Linked DNA regions of Homo sapiens. The protein of the gene in region 3 interacts with the protein of the main gene of each other region in a biochemical or structural test. Each region holds a gene or a part of one and is shown on either strand. Other genes may lie near its edges. The genes, in order: ABCA2, RTKN and DLG3.

Region 1 (3,643 bases), on a different chromosome or scaffold from region 3:
ACTGGCCTGCGGGGAGACAGCTCAGGGCCTGTGCTCTGGGCCTTGCGGGGCCCCCACCGCCTTCCCCGCCCCACGGGCCCCCTCACCAATCTTGGCGTAGTACTCGTTGATGTACTCGTTGTAGGCCATCTCCATGAGCCCGTGGCCCAGGTTGTAGTTGGGGAAAATGAGGAAGCAGCTTTTCAGGTAACTGTTGACAACCTTCAGGTCCTGCGGGGTGGCCGGGGTCAGGGGCACAGGGGTGGCCGGGGTGAGGGGCACAGCCTCCGCAGGGTCCGCCACCCCCACCATGTCGTCACCGCCCCACCTTGTCGTGCTCGAAGAGCTGTAGCAGGAAGGTGGCCACGGTGGCGGTGATGCCGATGAAGAGATTGATGACAATGAGGAACACGTAGGCGGAGCTGGGGACCTCGAACCAGAAGGAGGCCGGGTACATGATGGGCGTGATGGACCACCTGCGGGCAGGTGGCGGGCAGTGGTCACCAGGCAGCCCCGGTCCCACCTGAGGCCGCTCCCCCCTCCGCTTCCGCTTACCCATAGAGCAGGAAGAGGGAGAGGACGGCAGGGAAGTTGGTGGGCGACGTGTAGGCCGGCAGGTCGAACACAAACAGGATGATGACACAGCAGGTAGCGGGGACCAGGTAGTTGAGCTGCAGGGGTGGGGGCGGCTGGTGAGAGACCCGGGGCAGGGCGGGGATGGGGGATGAGAAGGGCCGGGGCACCCCATGGCCACGCCGGGCGCACCATGTCCCACACGTAGTTCGCCAGCCAGTAGATGATGGGGTTGCAGCCGCTGACAAACTGCAGGTGCTTGGCCTTGGTGGACTTCTCGGCCACGAGGAAGACAACGAAGCTGGCCGGCACGAAGGACATGGCCACGATGATGAAGATGGCGATGACGACATCCGTGCCCTGCAGCCTGGGGCAAGGAAGCCCTCAGTCCTCACGGCCGGGGCTGCAGTGCCCACCTGCCCCACCTCATCCCCCACTGGCCACACTTACAGGTAATCCAGGGAGAGGCTGGCGCTGGTCTTATTCATGGGGTGGTTGGTGACGGTGATGCCTGCACACGGCGGGGCGGGGGCGGCAGCTTCAGGCCCCAGCTCCTCCCCGCCCCGGCCCCAGCTCCTCCCCGCCCCGCCCCGCCCTGCCTATGTCAGCTCACCGTAAGCCGCCGGGTTGCCCTTGCTCTTGGGCAGGTTGGCACGCAGGATGGCGTTGTTGAGGCTGTTGAGGTAGGTGGGCATGCTGTGATAGCCCTTGTTGTTGTAGAAAACCTGCAGAAGGAAGAGGACACAGAAAGGCCCCAGGACCTCAGACCTGGGTCCCTGCAGACCTCGGGCGGCGCTACACACAGCGGGGCCCAGGCCCGCAGCCTCGCTCACCTGGGCAGCCCTGCGCACCGCGATCTTCCGCACCATGGGTGGGGCCCTGGTGCCAAATGAGGCTGGGATGGACTTCAGGACGTTTCCAAAGGTGATGGCCCCATACCTGGGCAGGCAGGTGGGAGGGGCGGTGAGGCTAGGCAGGCAGTGAGGCTAGAGGGGCAGGAGTTGAGACTAGGTGGCTGGTGGCCGGCCACCCTCACCCACAGCCTCCCCACCCAGCTCACCGGTGCAGTCGGAAGCGGTCGGAGGTGAAGAGCAGGTACTCAGAGACATTGTGGCCGGTGATGTCGGTCAGGATGTCGCCTGTGACCACCCGCATCTGGGGCGGGTGCCCGCCCACACTGCTGGGGCAGGAGAAGCCGGTGCCCTGCGCAGAGCAGGTGCAGCGGACGGGCTCCCGTACCAGGCGCGGCAGGGAGGGTGCCGACGTCCACATTTCTGTGGGCACAGCATGGTGCGGTGAGAAGGACCCCTCACTGCCCCTGCCCCCCCAGCAGGCCCCCTGAACCACTACCTGGCCCAGCGGTGGGCGGCAGGGAGACGTTCCAGGCCTGCAGGTCCTCATCCGGGGACGCTGGCGAGTCAGATGGGGCGGGCGAGGGTGGGGGTGGCACGAAATTGGACAGTGGCAGCCCCTGTGTGAAGGACTCCAGACACATGCTGTCGAAGAACCGAGCCGCCAGCAGGCGCGACTCCCCGCTGCTCAGGTTCAACGTGGGCCCCAGCGAGCCGTTGGCGGGAGACTTGAGCACGCAGGTGGCACCCACCCCCGACGGCAGCCGGAACGTGCTCACGAGCTGCTGGGGGCTGGCGTCGGGCGATAGCCGCAGCCTGCGGGCACCGACAGTGTGAGGTGGGGCTGCCAGTCTCCGCCCCTCGCCAGCCCCGCCCCCTCGCCCGCCTGGCCCACCAAGGCTGTCCCCGCCCCTTCACTCGCCCCACCCACCAAGGCTGCCCCCGCTGGAGGCCTCACCGGTACTCGCGGCGCTCCTCGTTGGCGTAGGGGATGAAATTGCCACGGGGCTGGGTGTAGTTGTGGTACTGGGAAGGTGACAGGACCAGCGGGGGCAGATCACCTGGCAGGGCGAGCAGGGAGGCCTGAGCAGGTTCTGCCCTCTGGCCAGCGGCCCCCAAGCCTCGGTCCCCTTCCCCCAACCCCAAGGGATCCACGCCTGGGGTCTGGGACCCGAGGAGACAGGACTCCCGGATGAACCCCGGTGCGTGCCCAGCCTCAGGTGTGGGGTGAGGCCCAGAGTCAGGAAGCTCAGGAGTGGGCATCATCAGGGCTCCCAGCGGGCGGTGGGGGGAGGCAAGCCCAGCACCCCTGTCCAGCCGGTGGCCTACCAATCTCCGGGACGGACAGGGCCACGGTCATGGCCACGCAGACGAAGAAGGCTGGCAGCAAGATCTGGGAGAAGAGTGCCTTGGAGTTGCGGCGGGCGCAGTGGAAGCGTTTGACCAGCAGCCCGTGGAACTGGCGCACCTTCAGCCACCCGCCGTCCAGCTTGCGGCTGCCCTGGCCGACCCTCGACAGGGCCTCTGCCTCCACCTCTGTGCAGAGAGGTAGAGGCTGAGCAGGTGGTTGCACGCTACCCTCTCCCTACTGGCTGCCCTCATGCCGCTCCCCCGCAACCCTGCTCCCCCTCCCTTGCTGTCCCAGCCTCACCCTGCCACCCCCACCTTGCAGGCTGACATTGTCTGGGTCCTGTGGGTTATCAAAGAGGGGGCGGTAGTCGCCATAGACGTCGGTGTAGCCAGCTCCCTCGTCGCCACGGGCAGAGCCCACAGATGACGCCGACTGCAGCGATGCCTGCGACTGGGTCAGCTCCGAGCACCGGGCCAGATTGCCAGCGTGACCCTCCCCAGACGCCGGGCCCTCCGCCCCAGGGAGCACATCCTTCCTGGACTCCTTCACATCTGCCGCAGTGGAAGGGCCGAGGGGACACTCAGGGCTACTGGCCCCTAGGCCTGCCCAGGACCCCCATCCCCGGTCTTGACCCCAGTTCCCAGGCTCATACACCTGTCCGGGACCTCTGGCCACCAGGACCACCCACCTAGGACCGCAGGCTAACCCCGGGGCGTCCCCTGGCTTCCACCCAGGACCAGGGTGGCGCCCCCAGACACCAGGCAGGAGTGACAGCGCAGGCCCGAGCTGGGGCCTTGTGGGTGGGGTGGGCTGAGCAAGTGGTCCAGGCCCCTCACCGGCCTCACTGTTCTCCAGCGACTGATCCTCCTCCGACACCTTGAGGAACACT
Region 2 (3,743 bases), on a different chromosome or scaffold from region 3:
AAAAATTAGCCAGATATGGTGGCAGACGCCTGTAATCCCAGCTACTCCGGAGGCTGAGGCAGGAGAATCGATTGAACCCAGGAGGCAGAGGTTGCAGTGAGTCGAGATCATGCCATTGCACTCCAGCCTGGGTGACAGAGTGAGACTCTGTCTTAAAAAAAAAAAATTAAAATAAATAAATAAATAAATAAATAAAAATAAAAAATTATACATATTTGTAATGCTTTTTAAGAGATGGGGTCCCACTATGTTGCCCAGGCTGGACTTGAACTTTCGGGCTCAAGCAATCCTCCCACCTTAGCCTCCCGAGTAGCTGGGACTACAGGTGTGCACCACCATGCCAGGCCAATTTGTGTGTGTGTGTGCGTGTGTGTGTGTGTTTTGTTGAGACAGGGTTTCATGTTGCCCAGGCTGGTCTCCAACTCCTGAGCTCAAGAGCGATCAGTCCCCCTTGGCCTCCCAAAGTGCTAGGATTACAGGCTTGAGCCACTGCACCCAGCCATCTTTTTTTTAGACGTAGTTTCGCTCTTGTTTCCAAGGGTGGAGTGCAATGGTGGGGTCTCAGCTCACCACAACCTCTGCTTCCCGGGTTTAAGCGATTCTCCTGCCTCAGCCTCTCAAGTAGTTGGGATTACCGGCATGTGCCACCATGGCCGGCTAAATTTTGTATTTTTAGTAGAGATGGGGTTTCTCCATGTTGGTCAGGCTGGTCTCGAACTCCCAACCTCAGGTGATCCACCCTCCTAGGCCTCCCAAAGTGCTGCGATTACAGGCGTGAGCCACCGCGCGCAGCTGCTCTTTATGACTGCAAATATGGGGCACTTGCCTTGTGCCAGGCACTATGCTGGGCATTTTACCCTCATTCTTATAGGTAATCCTCATAGCAACTTGAGGAGTGGAGATAATTACAGTATTCCCACTGAACAAATGAGAAAACTGAAGCTCAGAAAGGCCAGTGACTGGACCAAGTTAATGATTGCACGGTTAGTTAGTGACAGAGCTGGGGTTTCACGACGTGTTTAAGCACCGCCCCATCAGTTGTGGCCACTAGGCTTAGGCGGATAGCCTCGCAGAGGAGCCTAGGTGGGGAGGGGGACGAAGAAGGAACATTTGGGACTGTGGGATGTTGAAATGGTCTCTTCGGAGGCTGCCGGGATTGAAACTGGGCAAGGTCCCAGGGCCCGAGTAGAGCCAGAGCGTGCTACGCGGCGATCCCTGAGCCACGGGGTTTTCAGCGCCCGGGAAGCCAGGCTTGCCAGGTTGGGGCGGCTGGCGGGGCAGGGCTTCTCGGTCCGTCCCAAGTCCAGGTAGGCGCTCGCGACCCGCGCGGGCAGGGAGAACGCGCTCCCACAGTGCTCGCGAGGTGCAGTGCGCCCCTGGGGGCTCCGGGGCCGTCGGGCCAGGTCGGCTTGGCGCCCAGGGACTGGCCGGACGGGCTGGGCCTTTGGCGGGGGTGGAAGAGGAGGTTGCCGCGCCCTGCCCGGCCCAGGTGTCGTCTCCGGGGGCGGGGTTTGGAGCCCCGCAGCGGGAGATTCCCGGCCGGACTGGCGGACGAGCGTCGAGAGACAGAAGCCGAGGAGAGGAGGCTAAGCCGGGCGGCGCGGGGAGCGCACTGAGCAGGCAAAGTCGCAGGGCCGCCAGCATGTTCTCCCGAAACCACCGGAGCCGGGTCACCGTGGCCAGGGGCTCCGCCCTGGAGATGGAGTTCAAACGCGGCCGCTTCCGACTCAGCCTCTTCAGCGACCTGCCCGAGGTGAGAGACTCGCGTCCCTGCCTTCCCCTTCCGCGGCTCCCGGGGGCAGCCCCAGCCACCTCGGCCTCCTTCCCTCGCCCGCGTGCACGCCGAGGGGCGGAGACGCACGGTCTGGGTACAAACCCGACGGAGTTGTTGACTTAAAAAGTAAGGTGTGGACGGTCTGCATTTTCATCGGATCCATGCTGCCCATTCCGCGGCCTGGTTAGGATTATCTGCCTGAGCCTGGAAAAAGCCCGGGTTGGTCTCAATTTGTAGGGCCCCAGCTCGACTCCTAAAATGTGCCTGAACCCCAAAATGTCTTGGGCATCCCCGGGCCAAGGGCGGTGGGCAGCTAGGCGGGCCCCAAGCGCTCGGACTCTTGGCCTGGGCTCCCGCTTGTTCCCCAGTCGCCAGCCCCATCCCACAACCTGTCGCAGCCATCTGGGCCAGCCTCTGTCATCAACCCCGACTTTAGGCCGGGGCCGCTCGCTTCCCCGAAGCCCAATTCAAAGGCTCCTCTATGCCCCTGCAGGGCTTTTAACTCCTTGGGGTTACTTCCCACACGCAAAATTTCCGCCTCCTTTTCTGGGGCCTAAGAGGAGTCCAGCCCCTAGGCTGAGCGTTTCCCCCGTCCGCCGTCCACGCGTTAACCTGTTGGATCCCCACCTGTAACGCCCTAAGGGCTAGGGCGGGGCTGAAGGTGTGTGGTTGAGCGGGGACTGAGAGGGCGAATAGCTACCCCGAAGACTCTTCTGTCCCCAAGGTCAGACTCACACTCGCCCAAGGAGAGCCCAGTTCCAAGCCTTCCCTTCCGGGTCTGGAAAGGGTTAAGTGAGGTGGGCCTTCCTTCCGCCCCCTCTACCTCCCGGCTGGGATTCCAGGCCTGGCTTCTGCCCTTTCCCTCCAGCCTGCCCAGAACAAAGAGGCTCTTTCACACCCTTGTCCCGGCGTCCCGGGCCTTCTCTGACTCAGAAGCTAGTGGACCTGGGGAGAGGGGGCCTTTGTCGCGTCCCCTTGCCCCCAAGCGACTGGGCCCGAGGAACCCGCGTGGGGCCAGCGTGGGGGAGTAAGGGGCGAGGCCCGGGACCAGGGGGAGGGGCCTGTGAGCTGGGGCCGCCCCTGGGATTAGCCCGGCCTTCGGGGACAGCTCGGAGGAGCTGGGGCGGAGCCGCAGGGCCTGGCGGCCGCCGAGTGAAGTGTGACTCCGTGGGCCTGGCGTGGAGGCGGGGGCGCTAGGCTGCAGCTGGCTCGGAATCGGGGCTGGTTTCCTGTCTGGAAGGGAAGGGGCCTGCAGAAGGGAGCGGGGACAGCAGCAGACAGGCACACCCCTGCCTTCCTCTCTCCCTCTCCTCCCTTCTCTGGAAAAGCGAGGTAATTGTGAGCCCAGGGTGGAGCGGGCTGGATGGGGGCCCTGAGTTGGAAGGGGTGGCCCTAGGGCTGGGCTGCTTTGCCAACTCACCCCTTTGTCCCATTCCCTGGGCTCACTCTCCCCTGAGGTCCTCACCTGTGTGGCTCTTTTTCCCAACTTTCTCAAACTAAGCTGGAACCCCTCTCGGGAAGCTCCAACCTCCTGCAAACCCCATGACTCTAGAACCTGCATGAGGCGTCGTTTCCCTGCCCCCTTCCAGTTGTGCCTGCCCCTCACTGCCCTCTCCGCACACAGATTCCCTGTCCACCAGGCCAGGGATGTGGGCGGGGGCTGGGGAGCGGCCAGAGTCGGAATGAAAGGGCCTTTTTCTTCCACAGCTGGGAGAACAGCTGCCACCAAAGCGAGACTGGACACTCTGTGCCTAGAGCCCCCTCTGCAGCTGGCCTTTCCTCCTGGGACCCCACTTATCCTCACTTCGCTTTCTTTTTCTTCCCTGCCTGGCTCCCGGCAGGGCCCCGGAGCAGCAGTGGGCGAGGAAAATTTGTCACAGCAGCCAGAGGGGTTTAACAGGAGTGCAGAGGGATAAGGGCAGCTTCTGCCCTCTGCCCAAGAGCTGGCCACCTCTTTAAAGACTGAGGG
Region 3 (3,643 bases):
AACTTACAACCAGTAAACTCCGCCCTCTAATCTTCTACAAATTCATCCTAACTCCCCTAATTCATTTTATTTTATTTATTTATTATTTATTTTTTAGACAGAGTCTCGCTCTGTCACCCAGGCTGGAGTGCAGTGGCGCAATCTCGGCTCACTGCAACCTCTGCCTCCCAGGTTGAAGCAATTCTCCTGCCTCAGCCTCCCGAGTAGCTGAAATTACAGGTGCCCGCTACCATGCCCGGCCAATTTTTGTATTTTTAGCAGAGACGGGGTTTTGCCATGTTGGCCAGGCTGGTCTCGAACTCCTGACCTCAAGTGATCTGCCTGCCTCAGCCTCCCAAATTGTTAGGATTACAGACGTGAGCCACCGCGCCCGGCCTCCTAAATTCATTTTAACATCTTCCTTCCTTCTCTCACCAAACTAATTTGTGCTTAATTCAAGTTCTGTTCTTTTCCTTACTATATTTGTTCTAATCTTTGAAACCCATAATGACATCCAGTGTTTCTCATTGTCACTGAGAATGAGGTTGCTTCATGATGCTCTTCTTAGTAGGAGTGGCTGACAGAATGTCTTCCTTGCTTTAGGAAATGCAGGACTCAGGCAGTGAGAATGCATTCAGTTTTGATTCTGTCACACATAGCCCGGAATGCACCTCTCGGACAGCACCTCCTTGTCTGCTGCCTCTGCCATTCTCCTTACTGCTTTGAGTGTGTAAATTGAGGGGAAAAAAGGGCTTTTTGTTAGAGTTTGGGTATTTTCATTTTCAAATCATCTGACGCTGATTTTTAAGAACTCTGTTTCAAGAGCTGTAAGCAGTAGGTGAGTATTTCACTCTTCATGGTTTTACTACATCCTATCTCATTTGGGCTTGCATATGGTAAGATAGTGTGTTTTACTTGCAGCTTCCAACTGAGCCAAAGGCCACAGTATTGCAGGTAGAAGTCAAAGTCTTGGAACTAGATTTTGGGCTGTGTGTGCAAAGGTGTGAAAACACCTTATTAACAGAGAATATGAAGAAGACAGCCTAGATTGCAGGTAGAAAAATACAAACTTCTCACTGAAATCACCCATTTGTGGTGACTCCATATGAAGACAGGTTCCACTGGATGTGAAAAGTAGAAACTTTTTTTTTGGCTTTTTTTTTTTGAGACAGAGTCTTGCTCTGTCGCTTAGGCTGGGGTGCAGTGTCGTAATCTTGGCTCACTGTAACCTCCACCTCTCAAGTTCAAGTGATTCTCCTGCCTCAGCCTCCCGAGTAGCTGGGACTGCAGGCATGCAACATCACACCCAGCTAATTTTTGTAGTTTTAGTAGAGATGGGGTTTCACCATATTGGCCAGGCTGCTCTTGAACTCCTGACCTCAGGTGATCCACCCGCCTCAGCCTCCCAAAGTGCTGGGATTACAGGCGTGAGCCTCTGCGCCCGACCTCCTAAGGCTCTTTTGATGTGTCACTCCTCTCAGATTTCCAGGGGCCACTAGATCTTGTCTATTCAAGGGCTTCCAAAATTTGCTTCAGACCTTTATTTCCAATACCATTTCCTAGGACTTCTAGCATCAGCCAAGCTGGTGTCCTTTTCCATAAGCCTGGATTGTATAGCTCCCTCCCCACCTTCTCCCACCTTCCCTTTTATTTCTTTACTCTGCATCATTTATAGCATGTCACAACAGCATGTCTTGTCAGAAGACCTGGGTTTTGTCCCAGGTTGGTTAGATGTATGACCTAGGTCAAACTATTTTTTCCTCCCTGAACCTCTGTTTCCCCATATGTAAGAGAAAGAGACCGCACTAGGTGACTTCTATGGTCCCATTGGTCTTTTCAACCCTACCATTCTGTGCTTTTTCTTTGGCTGCCCGAGGACATAGGGCCCTTTCTTTAGTGCTTCAGGAGTGTTTACCAGTCATTGTTTGGGATTGTAGTTAACATTTTTTGTCCTCTCTTTAGCTACTTTTTGAAGATATGTTTGTGAACTGAGAAAGCGCCCTGCTAGAGCTAGTTTCCTAGGATGTGGGTGAGGGAGAGGGCTATTGAGCGAGTTCTACTTTGGACTTTTATCTTGCATCCAGAAGCCAAGAGGAGATGGGGTTTGTAAAATATTTTCTCTTATGCTTCTTATTGGGAGAATGAGATGTTTCTTTGAAAGCGGGTGCATATTTACCACTTTGGCTCAGAAAGAAGGATGTGGTCTCCTGGAGACATCCTTCTAGTATACTGTGAGGCTGCTATGTCTGTGCTGTTTGGGTTGGCCTTCCATCTTTTCAAGGTGCCAGTGTCTTGGCATTTAGGGTTGGATGATCACTTCATCTTTCACTGTGCCTTTCAGGGCCCTGTTTGATTATGATCGGACTCGGGACAGCTGCCTGCCAAGCCAGGGGCTCAGCTTCTCTTATGGTGACATTCTGCATGTCATTAATGCCTCTGATGATGAGTGGTGGCAGGCAAGGCTGGTGACCCCACACGGAGAAAGTGAGCAGATCGGTGTGATCCCCAGTAAGAAGAGGTGAGTCGTCATGATCATGAGCAAGGCCTTTCCTGCCCTCTTGCTGGTATTTCTTTCTTGTTTTCCTATTAGAAGTTGCTTGAGAGCAACGTTTGTGCCTTGATTCCTTTTTGGTAGAGTCGGTACTCAACATGGTTTTTACTCAGTGAGCCAAAAAAATGGCTGCTGTGCCTGCTGCAACCCACTGCTGAGACCATTTACTGGCAGTAACAGGACTTCTTTCTGATTCCAAAACAGGGTGGAAAAGAAAGAAAGAGCTCGATTGAAAACTGTGAAGTTCCATGCCAGGACGGGGATGATTGAGTCTAACAGGGTAAGTGGGGATCCCCAAGGAAATCAGCCAGTAGGTAAAGAGGGTTGAGAAGCCTGGAGTTTAGTCTGATGTGTAGGAGAACTGGGGAACACAAAAGAAAATCTCTTTTTCAGGGGGCTGGCTCTGTCCTATCAGAACATTGACTGCTTTTCAGAAAGCAGAGAGGGAGCTCTTAAAGTTCACAGCCAGTCTGTGCTCCTTTCCCCTGGGTACCGGCTCTTGAAGATGTGTTAGAGTTGGACTGTCTGGAAGGCTGACTTGCTTGGGGAAAATGAAACCACTCGTGGGTGTCTCCCTGGCTATAGATCCTGTCAGAGCATCCGGCCAAGAAGCCCAGCTCCAGAGCTCCCACCTCCCTTCAGACCACCTGAGGCAGGCGGGTTCTCCATTCACCCCTTTTTTTCTATGAGCTTCACAGGCCAAAGAACTTCTGGAGCAGTAGAGGGAAGAGAGACGTGGAGTAGATGTGTATATCAGTGGTACCTTAGGGCATGTGTCCAGGAGGCTACAGTGACCTTTGTTCTTTAGGAAGTACCAGTGAGTGTTATGAGTGTCTGGATTATGTAGAAACTTCTAACATCCCTACAACATTTTCTTGTAAACATAATTTTCCTCTTACATCAACTTTCATTTAATCTCATAGACTCCATTTGTGAGAGATGGTCTTTTATTTAGCTCACCGTTGTCTCCATTTTAGTTTTTCTTGCATGCTTTAAAATCCATTGTTCTGTTTTTTTTTTTCTTCTGTCCTTCCCCTCCATCTTCATGTTCTTTCACAGTCGATCAAAACGAAACGTAAAAAGAGTTTCCGCCTCTCTCGAAAGTTTCCATTT

What was found.
Region 1: the proteins of DLG3 (region 3) and ABCA2 interact in a test that uses a peptide from one of them, tested with the Homo sapiens proteins (one large-scale study listed by IntAct).
Region 2: the proteins of DLG3 (region 3) and RTKN interact in a test that uses a peptide from one of them, tested with the Homo sapiens proteins (one large-scale study listed by IntAct).

The regions. Positions count from the first base shown.
Region 1 is NC_000009.12:137,011,100-137,014,742, forward strand, and holds part of ABCA2 (ATP-binding cassette sub-family A member 2), read right to left. Parts: coding exon 3,591-3,643; intron 3,306-3,590; coding exon 3,069-3,305; intron 2,940-3,068; coding exon 2,733-2,939; intron 2,465-2,732; coding exon 2,362-2,464; intron 2,220-2,361; coding exon 1,903-2,219; intron 1,827-1,902; coding exon 1,613-1,826; intron 1,492-1,612; coding exon 1,386-1,491; intron 1,278-1,385; coding exon 1,166-1,277; intron 1,064-1,165; coding exon 1,003-1,063; intron 920-1,002; coding exon 745-919; intron 651-744; coding exon 535-650; intron 456-534; coding exon 308-455; intron 211-307; coding exon 87-210; intron 7-86; coding exon 1-6. UniProt on the Homo sapiens protein: Probable lipid transporter that modulates cholesterol sequestration in the late endosome/lysosome by regulating the intracellular sphingolipid metabolism, in turn participates in cholesterol homeostasis.
Region 2 is NC_000002.12:74,439,716-74,443,458, reverse strand, and holds the start of RTKN (rhotekin), read left to right. Parts: upstream 1-1,521; 5' UTR 1,522-1,642; coding exon 1,643-1,753; intron 1,754-2,875; exon of another isoform or gene 2,876-3,743. UniProt on the Homo sapiens protein: Mediates Rho signaling to activate NF-kappa-B and may confer increased resistance to apoptosis to cells in gastric tumorigenesis. May play a novel role in the organization of septin structures.
Region 3 is NC_000023.11:70,489,787-70,493,429, forward strand, and holds part of DLG3 (disks large homolog 3), read left to right. Parts: intron 1-2,320; coding exon 2,321-2,497; intron 2,498-2,734; coding exon 2,735-2,810; intron 2,811-3,589; coding exon of another isoform or gene 3,590-3,643. UniProt on the Homo sapiens protein: Required for learning most likely through its role in synaptic plasticity following NMDA receptor signaling.